Regions from separate parts of the Homo sapiens genome. Here region 2 is linked to region 1. The links come from fine-mapping of genetic effects on gene expression. A gene starts in region 1. The other region holds a variant in brackets. All regions are shown on one strand. Distances are between the middles of the regions. Region 1 holds the start of PKDCC (protein kinase domain containing, cytoplasmic). Region 2 has its middle 13 kb from the start of LINC01914.

What was found. PIP is the estimated chance that this variant, and not a neighbour inherited with it, causes the effect. A credible set is the group of variants that fine-mapping cannot tell apart.
Region 2: its variant is the best candidate, but not a certain one, in a credible set for the expression of PKDCC in left ventricle (GTEx, PIP 0.62).

What each region holds. Positions count from the first base shown.
Region 1 is chr2:42,046,802-42,049,708 of GRCh38, reverse strand. It overlaps PKDCC (protein kinase domain containing, cytoplasmic), which reads right to left and starts at 1,688. Exons shown (of 7, transcript NM_138370.3): 1 at 871-1,688. The coding sequence starts at 1,509. RefSeq lists enhancers at 1-86, 800-1,059, 2,560-2,679, 2,303-2,807, 2,808-2,907 and silencers at 1,100-1,169, 1,300-1,399, 1,410-1,589, 1,740-1,989, 2,100-2,389.
Region 2 is chr2:41,919,566-41,922,472 of GRCh38, reverse strand. No RefSeq gene overlaps it. Among named protein-coding and RNA genes, the nearest start is that of LINC01914, 13 kb to the left of the region's middle. The variant C/T (reference allele first, on the strand shown) is at 1,774.

The sequences.
Region 1 (2,907 bases):
CTTGGAGGGGACAAGGTGGGGGTTTCAGCTCTCGCCTGTGTCTCCAGTGAACAGGCGAGGCAGAGTCCCGTTGAGTAGGAACCTGAGCATTTGGCCTTCTCAACCTTCCAGCCTCTTGGCTATCTATATACACTCAGACAGTGTGACATTTAGATCCTCAGGCCGCCAGTCTGTCCACTGAGCTGAGACCTTCAGGCTTCTCCAGGGGCTCAAGGACCCACTTTAAGGCCTGGGGAACCCTTAGTTCACTTCTGGGAAGGACTGTGTTCCCTTTTTCTAGCCTGCTCCCCAGCCCCCTTCCAGTGTCTTCTGGGTGGCGCTGGAGGTGGGTGGGTGGGGAGACTCTATAGGAATCAAGCCTGACACATGGTCTCTTTCCAGCTCTTCCCAGCCCCACTGCTGTCCCGTCTCATTTTCAAAACCAGACAAATCACTGGAAGTTGGGAGAAGTTCCATCAAGAAGGGGGACTTTATCACACAGTTGGAATTCTGACTCAAGTGTCTTGGCTTAGGGTCATTTTGGCTTGGGGTAATATCCCTGGTGTTCAACCTCCTAACTCCAGCCCGGAGTAGAGTCCTAAATCCTAATGGACTGCCCCACCCCCTGAGTTTTGGGAGCCTCTGTCCTGGCCTGTCTTTAAGAGATGTGTGGAAGCCGAGAAACCCAGGAGTTCTCCGGTAAAGGGACGCCCACCCAGGAGTGAGAAGCAGGGTGGTGCAGTGGGAAGGGCCATGGTCCGGTTTCTGCGTCTAGCTTAGCCTGGGTGCAGTCACTGGCACTCCAGATCAAGGGGTTCTCTTCCAGCCAGGTTGACAAGGTCTTGGGCACTCCCAGCCAACACCGTTACCCCCGCGTCCCCACCCTCGTACCTGCAGCACGTTGGGGTGCCGCAGCCGCTCCAGCAGCACCATCTCCTTAAGCAGCTTGTGGGCCGCCAGCCGATAGCAGCCCCTCCGTACCCCGAACTCGCGCACGCAGCTGCCCAGATCGTGGCCGCTAAAGTCCACCGCCTTGAGCGCCACCGCGGCACCGCCGGGCAGGCGGACCCGGTACACGGCCTTGGTGTAGCCTGAGCCCATGTACTGCGCGCCGGACACGTTGCGAAGCGCGGCGCAGCCCAGGCGCGGGCCCGGGCCGGGGGAGCCTGGGCCGGGAGCCGGGGGCCAGCCTGGGGCGCCGTCGGACAGGGGCCGGGCCCAAGGGGGCCGGGGGCGCGGCAGGCCGGGCCCGCCCGGAGCCAGGTCCATCAGGCGCCGCCGCTCCGGCCGGCCCGCCCCGGGCCCGGGGCCCCCGCGGGAATAGCGCTGCACCTCCTCGTAGCGCGCCCGGATCTGCCGGGCCAGCTCCCCGCGGCCCCCGCGACGGCCCGGACCCGGGGCCGGCGAAGGCTCAGGGGACTGGCCTGGCCTCGGAGGCTCCGAGCCCGGAGCGAAGAGCACGTTGAGGACGGAGCCCAGCAGGAAGGAGGCGCAGAAACCCGCGGCCACTGCCGCCCGCCGGCGCCGCATCGCTCCCCTCCCCCCGGCCGGCCGGCCCCGCGCGGCTCCCCGGCCCCGGCCCCGGGCGGCTCAGGCTCCGAGGCGGCTCCGCTCTGCGCCCCGCCGGCCCCCTGCCCAGCCCGCGCGCATGGCCCCGGCGGCCCCGACCCCGGCCCCTCGCGGGCGACACATCGGCCTGACACTTGCCTCCCTGCCGCCCTGCCCCCGCCGCTTATAAGGCCCAGAGCCGCCCCCCGCCCCCGCCCCCGCCCCCTCCCCCGCCCCCTCCCCCGCCCCTCCGCCTCCACCTCCCAGCTCCCGGCCCGAGCCCGTCCTCGGCGCCGCCCCCTCCGGCCGCCCGGCCCGGCCTTCCCCGCTGACTGACAGCGGGACCTCCTCCCGCGGCCGTCCGGGCCTGGGAAGCGGCGCGGAGGCGGCTCCGGTCCTGCCCAGCCCGCGGTCCCGCCCAGCCCGCGGTCCCCCGAGCTCCGTCTGGGAGCGGGGGAGGGGGCGGCGGCGGCCAGGAGGCGCGCGGGGGCTCCGCGCCCAACGCGAGGGCGGATAACGGGGCCGGGGCGGCCGGATAACGGGATTGGGAGGTGGATAACGGAGCCGGCCGGGCGGAGTGGGGGAAAGATAAAGGGGCGAGGCCGGCGGGTAGCGGGCTCCGGAGGGGACGAGCAGCTAAGTCCGGGGTGCGGAGATCCGAGTGATCTCAGCGCTCCCTCCTGGGACTGGGGGCCTCGGGGCGGTTTGGGCGCAGGGAAGGCGCGTGGACCCCGTCTCTCGCGGGTGGGGCCGGGGGTGGCGGCTCCTCGCTCAGCCCCGGATTCCGGATTGGGGCGATGGTGAGGGGGAAGCGGGCACAGCCGGGCCAGCACCTGCGAGCGCGCGTGGGACAGGAGCTCTAGGCATAGAGGAATGCTCGTGAGCTCGCCGAGGATGCCCTGTTCAACTCCTTTTACCAAAGTGTTTCTGATTTTCCTTGCCTCTAAAGCCCCAAATGCAGCTGGGGGTCGCTCCCTACCCCTCAAGATGCCTGGGGTCTGACGGGGTCAGCCGCGTATAAGAAACCATGTGCATGCTAGTAGCTTGGGCAAAGAGTGCGTTTGTGCCCACGGACGGCTGTCTGTGGAGTGTGTGCCTCGGCGTGTCTGAAGGGGCCATTGTGTCCGATGAAGGGAATGTGTACCTTGTGTGTAAGTTGGTGCTGACGCCACCAGAACTTCGGTCCCTCCTCCTCCCTCCCTGATTGCATCATTAGTGCTAATTGAGGGGCTTTCACACGCCAGTGCACTAGCTGTTTGGAGTGAGCTCCCCCCTCCTGGGAGAGATAAGCCGCTGCCCCTCCCCCTCGCAGCTCTCCTCTTCCCCGCCACTCTGAAACTGCCCACCTAGATCCTCTCACCTTCCTGGGCAGCTTCCTGC
Region 2 (2,907 bases), 130 kb after region 1:
ACTGAGGTAATTGCATCAGTAGGCGTGTCAATTCTCTAAGGGAACCCTTGTTTATTTGGTATCTACAATGTGCCAGACACTGAGCACATGACTTAGATGGAATGACTTGCTGAAATCATGGAGGCAGTAAGTGATATCCACATGCATGTCTGTCTGATAGCCAAGCACCTTCTCATTCCTCGTACCAGGGGTTCATGAACTCAGAGGATTAGAGTGCTTTGATTCTCAGTCTTTGTCATCTTGCCTGCAGCCCAGTACTTCTAGGCTCGCTTTCTTGGTGGTTCATACCCCAACTCTAAGCCTGTAAGAATAATCGGCGTCAAGGTAAAGTTCCCTTTGTCACCAGCCCTTGGTATTAGTTCGCTATATTAAAATAGGTCTTTAATTTAAAAAGCAGAGGAGGGAGAGAACTAAACATTGAAAGAGTTTATACATTTCTAATTGTGAATGTTTGGCAAGGCTTAAAGGCATATGATGGCTCCCATTTCAACACAGACACTTCTCAGGAATTCCTGCCAACGTTGTTCCCCATCAGTCCTTAGTCCCTTCTCTGCCTCCTTCTCACCTGGAAACGGTTTGAGGCAAGTGTACCTCTCATACACGTAATCTAGATTGGGATTCTTAACTTGGGATTTATGGATGGGTTTCTGGAGCCTGTGAATTTCTAGAAATTGAAAAATGTAGTTGGATTGTTGTGTGTGCTTTTTTCTGGGGAATGGGTTAACAGATTTTATCACATTCACAAAGAAGCTGGTGACTCGAAAGCACTAGAGGTGAACATGGAACTTCCATGTGAGAAACTTCCTTTAGAGGTAAGTGCTAGGATAAGTTTTGCCTCCTCTAAAGGGACCAGTGTGCTTTTTACTTCTTCTAATGTTGTTCTAATGATACCATTAGAACATTTCTTTTTTTTTTCCCATTTTCATTTTATTGGAATTATTTCTACCTGAATCAACTCAGCTTTGTGTAAATGTTATAGGAAGAGAAGATTCATTGAGCAGTTACGTTTTATTACAGAAAAAAAAAAAGAATTGACTTTCATACCAATTATCGTATTGGCCATAGGACATTTTGTAGGGGGCTATGATGTAGAATGACAGAAGGAAAGACGAAACCTGAAGGGCATCTTTACTAGGTGTGAGCTCGAATGTCTTTCTGGGACAAATGTCCGTGAGGTCAAGTGATGAGGTCCAAACAACCTGCTTCACTGTCTCTGGCAGGAAAAGATCTTGGGGCAGGAGGAAGCAAGCCCCTTATAGAGTAAAAAGAAGTTGCCATCATTTTGTGGGCTGTTGTGCTGTCACAGGATATAGTTAATAGGAAAATGCAGACATCAGTGAATTAGAAAACCCACTTCAGCAGTCCCCCTCTTCTCATGGCCCAAGTGAGGATCAAATGTGACTCATCGTGAAGTGATCCTTGTCTATCAAGTCCTACAGGCTTCCCTCCATCACTGAGTGACTCAGGACATGAGCTCTCATTGCCATGCAGAGTGGCTCTTGGCTTGGGTGGCAGGGGCCCTGGGAGCAGTTCCCTAGCTCTGGAAACATCTGTGCCACTTGACCTCATGGGCCCCTGTATTTATTTGAATAACTACTGGAGGATAATGTTGATTAAAAAAAAAAAAAGATGATGTGGTATACTGGAAAGAACATCGGATTTGGGGTCAGTCAACCGTGGTTCAAATCCCAAAGTCTTCCCACCTTTAGTAAAAGACATATTTAACACTTGGGGGTAGCTGGGCATGGTGGCACAAGCCTGTAGTCCCAGCTA[C/T]TCAGGAAGCTGAGGTGGGAGAATTCCTTGGGCCCAAGAGTTCGAGGCCAGCCTGGGCAACCCAGTGAGACTTCATCTGTTAAAAAAAGACAAAAACAAAAAACACTGTGGGAGAGGGAGGAGATGTTTGCTGGGCCCCTGAGTTAGGTCCATTTCCTCTCTGTTTCCCATCCCTTCTAGAAACTTGTTTATTTTCCCTTGTTGCATCTGTGGCAAGATATAGGTCTCGTGGAAAGGGGACAGTGAGATCATTGGCCTGTTTTGTCCTAATCTAGGCCTGAGGCCTGTCTGTCCTGGGTTCATACTTGGTCGAGCCCAGCTCACCGAGATAAGAGTGTGGGGACAAAGGCCCAGCTAGAATAAAGTTTTTCTTTGCCTAGCACTGGTGGTTTTTAGGGAACCTCCTTAGAAGACAGGTAATGTTTGATCACTTGTCTTTTTCTCTATCTTGCTAATGCAGTTGTGATGGCTGGTACTCTAGCATCCATCTTAGAACAGGAGGATGAGGTACATACATTAGACAGAGTGATAAGCTGGATCCAGAGGATTGAGAAACTGCCAAATAGCCCTAGATCATCAGCTTCTAGCATTATTTTAATTCAGAAAGAAAGAAACTTCTGTCTTATTTAAGTCACTGTTAGGTTTTTCTGTCACATGGGATCCAACCCTAATTAATCTGGTGGTCACACTTTTGGGTTCTAAAGTCAAATTACGTAGGTTGCAGTTTCAACTCTGTCATTCTATGGGCTTCAATTTGGGAAAATTTCATAACCCCTATAAATCTCCAGTTTTTTTTTTCTGTGAAATGGGGGTTATCATTGTGTTTATAGGCATGGTATAATGAATGGTACATGTTCAGCGCTCACTAAATATTTACTGTTATGTTGTTGTTACTGTTATTGTTGTCATCATCCTGGGGCATTTTATAACCTTGGAGAACTTTTTGGGGGTAGCTATAAGGAGGGTAGGAGTCATGTGTTTAGGATCCTGGGGGTCTATCCCTCAATCTTTTTCCATAAGAGAAACAACTCATACGTTCAGAGAAGGCACTTTCTCTCCCTTCCACATCTAAAGTGCAGCTAATGATATTTGTGCCTTGTTGGGAAAATTAAATGAGAAAATATATGCGAAGCA